Regions from separate parts of the Homo sapiens genome. Here region 2 is linked to region 1. The links come from fine-mapping of genetic effects on gene expression. Tissue or cell type: whole blood. Region 1 holds a variant in brackets; the other region holds the start of a gene. All regions are shown on one strand. Distances are between the middles of the regions.

The links. PIP is the estimated chance that this variant, and not a neighbour inherited with it, causes the effect.
Region 2: it holds the start of MAX, and the variant in region 1 is fine-mapped to the expression of MAX in whole blood (GTEx, PIP 0.98).

What each region holds. Positions count from the first base shown.
Region 1 is chr14:65,164,413-65,172,237 of GRCh38, reverse strand. No RefSeq gene overlaps it. Among named protein-coding and RNA genes, the nearest start is that of LINC02324, 54 kb to the left of the region's middle. RefSeq lists enhancers at 1,079-1,248, 1,269-1,328, 2,892-2,991. The variant C/T (reference allele first, on the strand shown) is at 3,161.
Region 2 is chr14:65,098,520-65,106,344 of GRCh38, reverse strand. It overlaps MAX (MYC associated factor X), which reads left to right and starts at 3,828. Exons shown (of 5, transcript NM_002382.5): 1 at 3,828-4,041; 2 at 4,773-4,799. The coding sequence starts at 4,006. RefSeq lists enhancers at 3,414-3,563, 4,257-4,757 and a silencer at 3,894-4,243.

The sequences.
Region 1 (7,825 bases):
TCTAAGGAAAGCCTTTTTCTTTTTCTCCATTTATTTATTTGCTTATATTAATATGGACTTAGATTTTCACATTTTATCCAATTTATTATTATTATTATTTTAGATGAAGTCTCCCTTTTGTCATCCAGACTGGAGTGCAGTGGTGTGATCTCGGCTCACTGCAGCCTCCGCTTCCTGGGTTCAAGCAATTCTCCCGCCTCAGCCTCCCGAGTAGCTGGGAAAACAGGTGCTCACCACCATGCCCAGCTAATTTTTGTATTTTTAGTAGAGATGGAGTTTCACCGTGTTGGCCAGGCTGGTCTCGAACTCCTGACCTCAGGTGATCCACCCGCCTTGGCCTCCCAAAATGCTGGGATTACAGGCATGAGCCACCGTGCCCAGTTGATTATTATTATTATTTTTTAAAAGTTCAGATTGTCCAAGATTTGAATGGGAGCTCCTTCCAGCTTCTTCTTCTTCTTCTTCTTTTTTTTTTTTTTTTTATTGAAACAGGGTATCTTTTACTACATAGCACAGGCTGGAGTGCAGAGTGGCTATTTACAGAGGTGATCATGGCTCACTGCAGCCTCAAACTCTTGGGTTCAAGCAATCCTCCCACCTCAGCCTCCTGACTAGCTGGGACTACAGGTGCATGTTACTGCCCCCCAGCTAGGGTTATTTTTGAAGGTGGATTCTCCAAAACTCTGGTCCAGGCTATTTCTCCAAATTATGAATGTTTAAACAGCATTCAAGAATCTAATTTTTAACATTATGAGAAAGCACAGCATCTATGCCAGTGAATTTTAGAGTTCCAACGAAATAACAAGATGTTTATTTACATACATTTTATAATCTTCCTAAAGACCAGACTCATTTCCTAAGTGAGGACATGACTTCCTCTCTCTTCTCCCGGTCCTGATGTATGTCCAGTCCATTTCACAGTAGACCTACTGAGGAAGTAGCAGGGTAGAGAGGAGAGTCAGGGAAGTGGGAAGGTGAGAGAGAAGTAGGGAGGAAAAGGAACAGGAGGAGAAAGAACTCCTCTCCTCTCCTCATTTGTTCAGACGGTCTGGCACCTACAGCCTCCTCATGTCCCCCAGCCCCACTGCCCCCTCCTGGAAGTCAGCGCACTGCTGCCGCTGGCATTCACATCGTGTCGGCAGGACGCCGCGTTGTCAGAGGTTAGAGACAGCCACTTTCATCTCAGAAAAGGGGCCGGGAGATGACCTGGGTTATATAGAAGGAACTCAAGTCTTCTTGCCGCAGAAATGCCACTGGAAGGGATGGAGGAGAGAAAACCCGGTTGTATGATGTCTGCATTGCCCTCCTCGCTGGAACTCACCACAGGCTGGAGGTGCTTCCGGCAGAACCGAGCTCCGGGGAAAGCCTGTGATAAATCATCTCTGTCTTTACTAGCCAAGGGTTGCTATGGCAATAGGAATACACTGTAGGTTTTAAGAGATGTAATTTTCTGTGATTCACTGTATATTTTTAGCCATTTTTCCCTCTGTATTATCTCCCTGTGGTAATTGCCTATTAATGCTGGTCTGTACTAAGATTGGACTAAACGGTCGATTCTCAGAAGAGATGAAAACCCTGGAGCTCAGTAAGTACAAGGGGGTGATGGCCCATGAACTTAAGAGTAACCTGGTAGAACAACCAGATTAGTTCAGGACATGGATGAATTCACGTGGCCCATGCTACGTCTGTCTTGGGAGGAGAGTAAAGCAGAGTGAAGGGACCCAGCAATGTGGCTCTGGAGTTTTGGGAATGGGAAGCTGAGTCACACTACCCACTGAAATCCATATGCTCGAATGGTGTCAAGGGCAGGCCACAAAAGTCAGAAACGAGCATCCTGCGCAAGGGACACTAGGACCCAGGTTTCCAAACAAAGGAACTGTAAAAGCTTCTAACCTTTTGTTTTTTTTTTTGTTGTTGTTGTTGTTGTTTTTTTTTTGAGACAGAGTCTCGCTCTGTTGCCCAGGCTGGAGTGCAGTGGTGTGATCTCGGCCCATTGCAAGCTCCACCTCCCAGGTTCATGCCATTCTCCTGCCTCAGCCTCCCGAGCAGCTGGGACTACAGGCGCCCACCACCATGCCCGGCTAATTTCTTTGTGTGTTGTTTTTTTTTTTTTAGTAGAGACGGGGTTTCACCGTGTTAGCCAGGATGGTCTCGATCTCCCGACCTCGTGATTCACCTGCCTCGACCTCCCAAAGTGCTGGGATTACAGACATGAGCCACCGTGCCTGGCCTCTAACCTCTTTTAATTTAGTTCAAGTCTTCTATTGTTTCTTATCTTATCCTTCCTTCTTTATTCCTTTCTTCTTTCTTTCCTTGCTCTAATTTTACTTTTTTTTTTTTTTTTTTTAACCGTAAAATCAGGGGAGAGACTAAGAGGAGGTGAAAACAGAATGTATCTAGTTGCTATTGGTTCATAGTTGTATCAGGGGTCTTTCCATCCAGGCCACAGAAAATCCAGCCTAAACTGCTTAAGCAGAAAGAGAACTTACTCTTTCTCTAATAGCTGAAAAGTCCAGGGGCTTGGGTTTAGTCTCAGGCACAGTTGTATTCAGAAGGCCAGATGACATCATCAACATCTGGGCTGTCTGACACACCACTAAGTTTCACTGATATTTGGGCATTTGGGCTGCAATAACATGAAACTCAGCTAACAGAGGCTTCAACAAAGTGTGGTTTGTTTTTCTCACATAAGAAGTCCAGAGAGAGGTTTATTTTTCTCATTCAACAAGCAGCCCAGAATAGGCATAGATGACGTTACTATGCAGCAGCTCAGTAATGTCATCAAGAACCCAGCCTCCTTCTTCATTTCAGCTCTACTGTCTTCAGGGTCACAGGAGGACAGGTCCAGCTCTAGACATTCAAGGCAGAAAGAAGAGGCTAGCTAACTTCCGATTTTTTTTTTTTTTATCCAGAAAAGTAAATCAATCCCCAAAGTTCCCAGCTGACCTCTGCTTCCAGTTGATTGAATACATCAGTGCCATGAGGCCACTTTAGCCACAGAGGAGGCTGGGAAAGTACGTTTTTAAGCTTTTTTGGTCCCTGCAGTAGAAGCAGTGTTTTTTGTTTGGTTTGGTTTTGCCTCATATAACAGTCAAAGAACAAACCGTACCCAAGATTGTGAAAGGGTTCTGCCTCTTCCTTGCAGTCTGACCAGTCACTC[C/T]GTTGTCATATCCTAGCCAAGAAGGGAGAAGGTATAAGAGAAGGGCAAGAAGCTTTCTTTTAAGGATGCAATGCATAAGTTGCATTCATCACTTCTCTTCTGCCCATATGCTATTGGTCAGAACATAACCACATGATCACAACCAGCTGTAAGGGTGGCTGGGAAATGTAGTACTTGGGTAGCCATGTGCCCAGCTAAAACTTGAGGAGTTCTGTTAGTCACATGATGAAGAAGAGGGGTATTTTGAAACAACTAGCAATCTCCTCAGGTGTAGTTAGAGCTCCATGATGTGCTCACTTCACATTGCATGCCTGTATCAAAACATCTTATCTACCCCATAAATATATACACCTACTATATACCCACAAACATTTTTTAAAAATAAAATAAAACAAAAATAAATTAAAAAATAAAAAAGAGCAGTTATAGGAGAAAGGGTTTGGATGGCTATTAGATTCACTCATTCAAGGCCAAATATTTCTGCCTCTGCCACATTCTCAGAGAGGCTTACCTTTGTGCAGGTAAGACAGCTTCAGCATCACCAGCCTCACATTCTCCCTGGTCCAAGACCATTAGTAAAAGAGCTCAACATCTTCGCAGCTACCCTGGGCAGTCTCACCACATCTCCTTGGTTCTTACTGGGTCACCTGCCCATCATTAACTAAGGGGATGCAATGCAATACTCTGGTCATTCCTGAATGACTTGCTCCACAAAATCACCAAGATCTTTCTGGGCCTCAGTTTGCTCATCTGTAAACTAAACATAATAAAACCTACCTCACAGGGTTGGTGGGAGAGTGCTGCTGGGGGACTCAGGCTGAGCTGGGGGTCATTGTCCATACATGCATTTCAGTTTGCCTACTGACCAGACTCACCTTAACAATATCATTTCAAAAAACAAGACCCTCTAAAATCAAAGTAATCATCAGTGGATAGTTAGCCTAGATCTCATCTTATAATATATTCCAAAGTAAAAATACTTGCTAGGTACCTGGCACTGTGCTAAGCACTTTGCATACCTTCTATCAAAACTCTCAAAGTAATTCCATGGGAGAGATACTTTCACTGTTTTCAATTAACAGACAAGAGTGGTGATGGGTGCCTGTAATCCCAGCTACTCGGGAGGCTGAGGCACAAGAATCACTTGAACCTGGGAGGCAGAAGTTCCAGTGAGTCGAGATCACACCACCGCACTCCAGCCTGGGTGACAAAGCAAGACTCTTAAAAAAACAAACGAATAAACAAACAAAAATAAACGAGTAAATAAACAAAAGGGATAAGGAAATTTAGCTCCTTGCCTAAGGTCACAGCCAGCACAGTGATGGAGCCACAAAGCCAGGACTAACTTTGAACCCCCACAATCTCCTCCCTCTTATTGTATAAAAATAAGTAAAAATAACCACATATTTATGAAATCACGAAAACCTTCCTGCTGATTGTGGTGGTCACAAGAAAGCACCTTTTGATGCAGGACAGATGAACCTCCAAATTGGGGCTTAGCCCAGGAAGGTTCTTGGCTTTGCCGAGGAGAAAATTCAAGGGCAAGCCAATGGTGTTGAACAGCCTTTGATGAAAGCGCCCAGTGCACAGGAGCAGCAGAGGTACTGCTCCTTGCAGAACAGGGCTACCCTATAGGCAGTGGGCCCAGAGTAACAGCTCAGAGGAAGTTCTGCACTCATTTTTATGCCTGCTCTGAATTGTATGCAAATTAAGGGGTGGTTTATGCAGAAATTTCTAGAAAAGAGGTGGTAACTTCTAGGTTGTCAAGTCATTGCCACAGAAAGGGGTGGGAACTTCTGGGTGTTGCCATGGTAATGGTAAACTGACAGGGCACAGTGATGGGCGTGTCTTATGGGGTGGTGCTTCTGCCCTGGACTTGTTTTAGTTAGTCCCCAATTTGGTCCAGTATCTGAACCCTGCCTTCAAAGTAAAGTCTCACCTCCTACCTCACTTTGATCTCCCTTTGAGAGAACCTGCTACCAGGAGTAGCAGGATGACAGCCTTACACTATGGATCCTTTGGGCTCCCTGCAGCCTTCACACTGAGGCCTCCCCCTCCCTGGGCACAACAGATGTACTACAGCCAGGCCAGTCCTGTCCAGTGGCAACTCCTCTGTTCTTGGGCTTCCCATAAGCCTGGCTGTGGCTTTCTTGGAGCTATGCTGTAGTCTAGATTCTTCCTACCCAACTCTCTTTCCTTTCCACTCTCCTTCAGCAAGTGCCAGGCCTGCACTGCTGCCTGAGGGCTGTCCTCACCACTCCTGCTCCCACACCCTATATCCTTCACATACATTCTCCCCCGTGCATTTATGCTCTGCCTAATTCCATCTTGGCATGTGTTTCTCAGAGGACCTGAAATGACACACTTCTTGTACCTCCCTTAACTCACAACATGAACTACATCACAGGCTTTTATGTTTCCAAAGATTTTTGAGTGTTAAAGAATAAGAAAGCAATAAAAATAATAATTCAAAATTGGGCTGTAGGGAAGATCTAATGTGGTCCAATAAAGAGGCTCCTAGCCTGGCACTTAAAAGGTAGAGACTCCTTCTTGAAGCAAGTTTCTGCATAGAGAGAAAAACAATAATCATTGCTGATCTTAAAAGAAACCTAGCTGCATTGGGCATTTTGGATGGAGAGGGTTAGAGGCATCTGAGACTTGCCTGGAGTCACTCCACAGGGTCACAGATAGATTTCAATCATTCTAATCCTCATCCAGAAGCTTCAAATGCTCCTGAGACAAGGAATTGATCCTTTAGCGAAAGAGCGAAGAATGCTACTTAACTCAGCCAAAGAAAAATAATGATCAATTGAGCAAAATGTACTGGCTTTAGACAAGGATCTCCAAACTGAAATGGAATTACTCTTGTTGCCCCTGGGAACACAAACCATGTGCCACAACTACGCTGCCCTGCCCTGCCTCATCCTACCTTAAGGCTTTTTCAGGGGTTACTAACTAGTAGCCACAGAGCAATGTGTCCTACAAACATGTTTTATCTGGTCCCTGTGGTCTTTTTTTACACAATATAAATTAGTTAAGATTTATCAAGTGAGATATTTCACATAAAAAATCTGGACTTCATGCTTCTTTTGGAAAATCAGAAAATCTGACAATATCAGCCCTACATGTGAACTTCCTGCCTCAAACAGAACCAGAATCTCTACTACTCCTCTCCTATTAAACTCCTATTAAACATGCTGGCTTTAACATGCTCAGGACCATAAACCTACTTGATTTTGAGCACTCAGATTCAGATCATGAGCCCTGGGTAGCACTTGGCTGAAGTTAACTGTCAGCTCTTTAAGAAAAATGAGTTAGTAACAATTTTTTTTTTTTTTTTGAGATGGAGTCTTGCTCTGCCACCTAGGCTGGAATGCAATGGTGCGATCTCAGCTCACTGCAACCTCCACCTCCCGGCTTCAAGTGATTCTCCTGCCTCAGCCTCCCAAGTAGCTGAGATTACAGGCACCTGCCATCATGCCCAGCTAATTTTTGTATTTTTGTAGAGATGGGGTTTCACCATGTTGGCCAGGCTGGCCTTGAACTCCTGACCTCAGGTGATCCACCCACCTCGGCCTCCCAAAGTGCTGGGATTACAGGCATGAGCCGCCGCCACTGCACCTGGCCACTAAATAAATTAATAGCATAAACAGGATTTCAAGAAGGAATTTCTTTTTTTTTTTTTTTGAGACAGAGTCTCGCTCTGTCGCCCAGGCTGGAGTACAGTGGTGCAATCTCAGCTCACTGCAAGCTCCGCCTCCTGGGTTCACGCCTGAGGCTCCTGCCTCAGCCTCCCGAGTAGCTGGGACTACAGGCATCTGCCACCACGCCCAGCTAATTTTTCTGTATTTTTAGTAGAGACCCGGTTTCACCATGTTAGCCAGGCTGGTCTCGATCTCCTGACCTCATGATCCGCCCGCCTCGGCCTCCCAAAGTGCTGGGATTACAGGCATGAGCCACCGCACCTGGCTGGAATTTCTTAAAAACTAGTCTTCAAGCACTTAAGTAAGAATGACAGCCATGATTAGCACGGCTGGAAGGTTTGTCAGCACTGACAGCTGGGGACAGGTGTCCCTCGTCAGAGGCAGAGACCCTGGGTTGGAGGAGGTGGGACTTCTGTCCTGGCTTTGTCCTTACTAGTTACACAACCTTGAGCATTGCCTTCACCCTCAGGTCAGGTGCCTGGTGTTGTAAGAGCTAACAGTGCCTAAGTGTTTTACTACCTGAAAAGCAGTCTATTAAGTGTTTTGTATGCATCCTCTCTTTTCATTCCACACCATGTCCTGACGCCATGTACCAGTATTATCCCTAAAGCACAGGAAGGTTTTGTGACCTGTCCAAAGTCAGAGAGTCAGTTGGAGCTCAGATGCTTTGGGCTCCCTGCAACCTTCACACTGAGGCTTCCCCGTCCCTGGGTACAACAGATGTACTACAGCCAGGCCAGTCCTGTCCAGTGGCGACTCCTCTGTGACTGCAGACTCCACACATGCACCTAGAAGACTGTGATGCTTACACCTGCATAGGGTGGTCCGAGGCACTGAAGAAGACTGTGTAGGCCAAGTGCTTTTTGTAATATGTAAAGTGCTACAGGATGATGTTTACTATTATCATTTGAATGCTGCAATTTTCTTTTTCAAAACTGATGCTTTATCTAAAAGTCATCAA
Region 2 (7,825 bases), 66 kb after region 1:
GAATTACCTGGGCCTAATGTTATCATGTAGATCTGATTTAGTAGGTCTGGGTGGGGACTGAGGTTCTGTATTTCTTACCAGCTTCCTTGTGATGTGTTTGCAGTGCAGCCCCGATAAGCTCACCTGGGGTTTTACCAAAGACACTCAAGTGTGGATGAAAATGAATTCTTGCGGTCCTAGATGCACCTCAGAGAAACACTGAAAAGGAACACTAAGGAAACTTCTCATCTGCCTCGTTCTTTCCTGTGTGTATGTGCCTCACTCATGAAAATCCCTACATTTGGGTCATTTGAAAGTTTGCTTTTTTTTTTTTTGAGACTGAGTCTCACTCTATTGCCCAGGCTCACTGCAACCTCCACCTCCCAGGTTCAAGTGATTCTCCTGCCTCAGCCTCCCGAGTAGCTGGGATTAAAGGCGTGTGCCACCACACCTGGCTAATTTTTGTATTTTTGGTAGAGAAGGGATTTCCCCATGTTGGTCAGGCTGGTCTCGAATTCCTGATCTCAAATGATCCTCCCGCCTTGGCCTCCCAAAGTGCTAGGATTATAGGAGTGAGCCACTGTGCCCGGCCTAAAAGTTTCTTAAATCCCAAATGTATGAGACTTTTCTAGTTAACTTTTTGTTATTTTTCTACTTTAATTGCACTAGGTCCAAGAATACACTAATATTATAGTCCTTTAAAACTTGTTGAGATTTGGCTGGGCAGGGTGGCTCACACCTGTAATTCCAGCACTTTGGGAGGCCGAGACAGGCAGATCACCTGAGGTCAGGAGTTCGAGACCAGCCTGACCAACATGGAGACACTCCATCTCTACAGAAAATACAACGTTAGCCGGGCGTGGTGGCTCATGCCTGTAATCCCAGCTACTCGGGAGGCTGAGGCAGGAGAATTGCTTGAACCCGGGAGACGGAGGTTGTAGTGAACCGAGATCACGCCATTGCACTCCAGCCTGAGCAACAAGAGCGAAACTCCATCTCAAAAAAACAAAACAAAACAAAAAAAACCACTTGTTGAGATTTGCCTTATAGCTAAGTACATGGTCAATTTTTGTAAATGTTCCATGAGTGCTTGAAGACAACATATTCTACAACTGTTGGGTGCAGTGTTATGTCTATTAGGTCAAATTTCTTAATCAGGTTGACAGGTCTTCATATTCTATTGATTCCTAAAAGGAGATGTGTTAAAATCTCCAGTCTCCCTACCAGGAAAGCCTTTCCTCCTCACCTCAGTCCACGTTATTCACGATAAGCAAAATGTTACGTGGCCTTTGCAGACCCAGCCCTTACCCTAATGCAACTGACAACCTCAGAAGACTTCCCTGGTCACCAACACCTCCCCAACCCCACCTCATACCTGGCACTCCTTCTTCCTCCTCTGAGCTCTTACAGCATTCACTGTCTATACAAACAATTTGACACTTACATAATTTGTCTTCATCACAATTATTTGAGTTGATAATTTACTCCTGTCAGGTTTTAAATTCCACATGGGTAAAGATTATCTTATTTTTCTTTTATAACAGTTTTATTGGAATATAGTTATTGACATACCATAAAATTCACTCTTTAAAAGCATACAGTTCAATGGGAAACTATCTTATTTATTCTGGCATCGTCTATAGCTGTGGTTCTCAGTCTTGGGTGCACACTGGAATTACTGGAAGAGCTTTAAAAAATCCTTCAGTCTGGAAAAAAAAATCCTTCAGTCTGGATCTCCCCTTCAGAGGTTCTGGCTTAATTGGTTTGGGGTGTGGCCTGGGGATGGGAACTTTTTTAAGCTCCTAGGATGATTTTAACTTGTAGCCGGGGTTGCCCTAGAGTGCTCTGTTCATAGCAGGCACCCAAGAACTGTCTGTTGTAATCATCAATTAGCTTTAACTTCTAGTATCCAGTTAATTAACTCACTCAAAAGTGGCCGTCTGTCTCCCCAATAGCCCATCAGCTCTTATCACATAATGGTCTGCTTATATCTGTCTCCCCAACTCAGCAGGAAAGGAACACTATGAGACAAAAGCATGTAGAAAAGGTAAGTTCACTTGCAAAGATGTGCAGACTTAGTAGGACTGGATCACTGAATAAGAAATACAACAGATATTAGACCGCGAGCGGTGGCTCACGCTATAGGCGTGAGCACGTGAGCACTTTGGGAGGCCGAGGCGGGTGTATCACGAGGTCAGGAGTTTCGAGACCAGCCTGGCCAAGTTGGTGAAACCCTGTCTCTACTAAAAATACAAAGATTAGCTGGGCGCGGTGGCGGGCGCCTGCCCCAGCTACTCGGGAGGCTGAGGCAGGAGAATCGCTTGAATCCGGGAGAGGGAGGTTGCAGTGAGCCAAGATTGCGCCACTGCACTCTAGCCTGGGCGACAAAGTAAGACTCCGTCTCAAAAAAAAAAAAAAAAAAAAAGAGAGAGAGAAAGAAATACAATAGATATTAAAGGAAAAAATGTAAAGGAAAAATTACCACATTTACATTTGTCTTTTCAGCATAGATGACATGCTCACGTTGAGGAATGTGTGTCACAAGAATTGTGTGTGACATATCCCCAAATTTCCACATTCAAAAGTCAGGGATAATATGGTATTCATCCGGGAATCAGTAACTCATGGGAAAAGCTCAAGATGTCATTCACTTTGGAGACCAGATGTAAAGGAGTAGTATGGGTACTTTGTCTCAGGGTGGAAAGTGTCTGTTATGGTTTTCTTCCTTCCCATGGGACTTGTTGCACACTCTTACAATGGCGGCAGGACCGGCACGCTTGCTTGCACAGCTGTGAGCTGCATGAAGGCAGGGATGGTTTTGGTCTTATCCGTTATGGCATCCCCTTGTGGCAAGTTAGGTGTTCAATAAATATCGGTGGAATGCATGTGATTACACTTCATGCCACAGTATATAAATATGATTTTAACTGGACAGGGAACTGCAAAAGTTTCCCATATTGATCCTTTTTGCAATCTTAATTATGGTACTCTGAGCTGGGATATTGCCTAAACTGTCTGGGCTACAACAAACTCTGAAGGGGCTTTTACTTCCACGTCCATAGTGGTTGAGGGTTCGCGTTGTGTGAACGCTGGAGCCTCACGTGAGTAGCTGAGTAGCGAGGATGGTCACTCCCAGATAAACGAATACAGGATTCTCGCGGCTGGGAGCGGTCGCCCGGCGAGGTCGGTCATTCTGCCTGTCCGGTAGCACCACGAAACACCTGCCACTGACACCTCCCCACCAGCCCCCGAGGGTTCGCGCAGGCATCCCGAGCCGCGCCCCCTGGTCCGCCGCAGCCAGATTCCCTCCCGGGCGGGTTACGCCCCTAGGCGCAAAACGGAACCACTCCGTATGAAGAAGACAAAGTATAACCAGTCACACCAAAGAGAGGCAGCATTATTTAGACAGCCGGCTACTCCCCCAGAGACTCCACCCAGTCCCCTGGGCCCGGCGTCCAGCGCGCAGACGGTGCCCGGCTCCAGGAGTTCCAGCTCCCTCCACGTGTCCTGTCTTCCCAGCAGCCTCCTCTGCCGCCTCGGGAGGAAAATCTCCTGACAACTCGCGGTCTGCGGACTACGACTCCCAGGAGGCGCCGCGCCGCGGCTCTCCCCGCCCCCCCCCGCCCCCCCCCCCCTCCCCGGGACGCGCAGGCGCCTTGGGCTCCGTCAACAAGCCGGGCTGGCGTCGCCTGGATGCGGTTTCTTCCGGGATTTGTAGTTTTTCTGGAGCTACCCGGGCCGTCTGTTAGAGGGACAAGAACTACAAGTCTCGGCTGCCCCAGCGCTGCGAGCCTGGTCACGTGGCGGGGGCCGACCGGGCGTGCGTGCCGCCGTTGATCCGGTGCTGCAGTGAGGAGGTGGTTCTTGCCCGTGTTGTGTGTGTGTGTGAGTGAGAGAGCGAGTGAGTGAGTGAGTGAGTGTGTGTGTGGGGGGGACTCGGCTTGTTGTTGTCGGTGACTTCCCCCTCCCCTTCACCCCTTCCCCTCCCCGCCGCCGCTGCAGTGGCCGCTCCCTGGGCCGTAGGAAATGAGCGATAACGATGACATCGAGGTGGAGAGCGACGTGAGTCCTGGGGCTTCTTCCTTCCCGTGCGGGTTGTCAGGCGGGGACAGCGGCCGGGGCTCTTAGCGGGGCGACGGCGGGAGGGGGCCGGGCTGCCGCCGCCTCCTTCCCCTTCCCCTCGGGGCCAGGAGTGCCTCCGTCGCGTTCCCGGTTCGCTCCCCTCCGGCTCCTGGCCGGAGCGGCCTCCTGGGACTGGAGGTTGGGGGAAGACACGCGGCTTCTGGGACCCCCACCTCCTCCCTTGCGGGAGGGTGCTGCGGCCTCCCGCTCCCACCTTCCCCGGCTCAGGATCCGGGGGACAAGGATGGGGGGCGCCCGGGATCCCATTGTCCGGATCCAGGGGAAGGGGACGGCGTTCAGGACCTGCCCCTTCGGACTGCGATCCTCTCCTCCCGTGACCCGCGGATCCTGGGGGCCGGGGAAGGGCGGAGAGGGGTTGGGGGTGCCTAGATGCCCGAGCTGGGTCTGCAGGGAGGAGACAGTGCTCGGGACCCCTCTGGCCCAGGTCGGATCCCGGAAGGAGGGGCGGCGCTCGGGACCCCTCTACCCTGCTACCGGATCCCGCCGAGGGTGGAAGGGTGGGGGCAAGGGGTGGGGAGGGAGGAAGGGGTGTCGGGCTGACTCCCCACCCTCCGCTTCCTCTGCCGCCGGCATTTTCTTTCTTATTATTGAATGTTAAGTGTAAAAATAACTTCTATATTTTCTATTTTTTTTTTTCTCTCTTATTCCAGGAAGAGCAACCGAGGTTTCAATCTGCGGTACGTCTCCTACTCTCCATTTCATTTTTATTTCCGTTCAGTTCTATTCCTTTTTGGGGTCAGAGAGAAAAAGAGATCGTACTATTACTTTTAATATTGTAGTAAACTCTAATGTTAACCACTAAGGTGAGGTGGGGCCTGGTTCTGGAGGGTGGGGGGGTTGCAAATCCCATTATTCTAGATTCTCAGGTGATAAGTTCAGTGATTCTAGGTGAGTAAGAGGAGCTGTATGCAAAGAATTGAATTGTTCTGTAGTTTTCAGATAGGGGATCCAGATGCCACTATGTAAGTGGAAATGAGAAATGCAGCATTCTGGTCTGGTAGTATTATTTCAGGGCAAAGTGGTCAGAAGATTTATTTAGGAACAAGTAGGTTTTAAACCATATCTGTATAATTGTGTGAAGCTGAAGCCACATGCGGTAATCGCCTTTAACCAAGTCATGTGACTGCTATAGACCCGTAGAATCTAGCACAACATGGTATTCTAATGCAAAAATTGGAAATGTAGAGGAGCCAAACGTTACATCATCAAAGTGTCACATAAAGTTATTATGGTCTGATTCTCTGTATTTGAAGAAAAGGTATAAAGAAAATTAAAAAATAGCTGAAGAAAAGTGGCATTGCAGAGACAGCTTTGCTGAAAGGTGATGGATGAGACCATAGAGTGTTATCAATAATTTCTTAGGGTTTTGATATTAATGTTCTCAGTAGATGGTTCTGTGGATTTAGATAAGCACTAATTCCATGTCTTTGGAGTCTGAGACAGTAATATGGATGTTTCATGAATAGATTTGAGGGAAAAAAGAATACACACAGAATAAATCAGAATCAGCGAGGGGAAGAGAAATAAGTATATCAGAGTGTCTAATATTTGATAGTTGGGAGCAGTAAGAAATGTATAGAATGGGGGTAAAAAGTTCAAATGCCCATGAGGGCCATAAAGAATAAAGAAGGAAGAGGTGAGGGCTTGGGTACTGGAGAGCAGTGCCTCTTCTAAAAAGTCAGCACTACTGAACTCCAGTGGTTTGTTAGTAGGAGTGAAGGGTCAGTATTGCCAGATCTTCCTATTTTTAATTTTATTTTATTTATTTATTTTTGAGACAGAGTCTCACTCTGTCACCAGGCTGGAGTGCAATGGCGCTATCTCGGCTTACTGCAACCTCCGCCTCCTGGGTTCAAGCGATTCTCTTGCCTCAGCCTCCCGAATAGCTGGGACTACAGGCGCGTGCCACCACACCCAGCTAATTTTTGTATTTTTAGTAGAGACGGGGTTTCACCATGTTGGCCAGGCTGGTCTCGATCTCTTAACCTCGTGATCTGCCAGCCTCGGCCTCCCAAAGTGCTGGGATTACAGGCATGAGCCACCACGCCCAGCCGATCTTCCTATTTTTTAAGAAAGATTAGAAATCTAAAACTTTATGTTATTTTTCTGATTTTTAAAATGATGTGTGGAACAACTGTTTGGGGGCTTGTTAGAATTTGCAGGATGTCACTTTGATACCTCTGGTATAAGAACTTGATAACCACAGGGTAAAGGCAAGCCATCTCAGTTATACCTGCTCTTCATTAGAGCAAGCAAAGATTGTGCAGGTTGTCTAAGCAGATAGGCATTAAGAAAACTTATTTATTGAGAGCTGATATTTCCATAAAATCCGGGGATGTAGTTGTTCCAAAAGTCTTAAAAATTATCCCTGGGTAATAGTCATTAAAGATAATTTGTTTTATTTTATTTATCCTTGAAGTATTCTCATATACTTATGCATATATTTGAAAATTGAATTCCTTTTTCACATTTACTTTTATCCTTCATGTTTGGGGCCTAGTCTGTTGAAAACTTTTTTTTTCCCTGCAAGTCTCCAGTTGTAAAATCTGTGCTAGGGCTTGATCAGAGCTGGAGGGTAAGGATCGTTTAGCCTTCCTTTGCAGAATTATCCTTTGAATTGAAATTATACTGACTTCCCAGTAAGAGAAAGTTGTGTTTTTTTTGTTTGTTTGTTTGTTTGTTTGTTTTTTTGGTGAAATTTTGGCTCGCAGTTCTTGAAAGCTTTCTGCTTTTCAAAATTTTCATCCATATGATCGTTGATATAAATTTGTTATTAAATTATTATAATGTTTCTGCTTTCCTGGAATGCTAATCTCATTGTTTTGTCTAGATGTTTTTAGTTTGCTGTTAAGGTGCCTAGGATTTTTCCTTTTGATTTTGGGGGTAGGCAAAGGAAGTTGGTTTGACACTTTGTTTTTAATTTAACACATCTATTTGTTGATATTTCTAAATATTACTCTGCACAATGTAATTACAACAGCATGGAGAGAAAAAGCAGATATGTTATAAACAAATTTTATAGTATATCAAACAACTATTGTGACTGTGTAGGGTAAAAAGGATTCCATTTTTTCCCCTCTGTGAATGCATCTGCTTACTTCTCAATATTTAATATGGATAATAAATATATTTTTTAAAATTTAAGAGGGAGCTATTCTTAAGTTTTGCCTTAGAAAAAAGGTTTAAAAAAAGATGTGGACTGTGAACAACCAAATACTTAGGTATTCAGGACTACAGAAGATGTTGAAAAAGTTATTTGAAAAGGGTTCTGTGGATCCTAATATAAAAACATTCATGTATGTTTTATAATGTCACTACAATATATAGGCCTTACTACATGAGAAATGTAAGATACTGAGAAGAGAGTTAGGAAGTTAGGCTAACTCTAACAGAAAGTGAAACTGATTTGGCAAATATTTTTTTCTATTGCTTCAGTACAAACGGAAAACAGCTTCTCCAATGGCCAGTAAGCTTTGTTAAAGGAAGTAACCCCAAAGAGTATTCTTACTACTAAATTCAGTACATCGCAAAATCCCACTGATGTTATTTTTATTATATTTTGGAGGGAAGAGGTTGCATTTTAAAGATAAATTTGTGGGACAGGTATATTATATTGCAAGGGCTTCCTTTTGCTTTATTTCTGTTTGGGAAATTTCTTTAGGAAAGAGTGTAAGTATACAGGAAATGTATGGGTTAGTGTGTT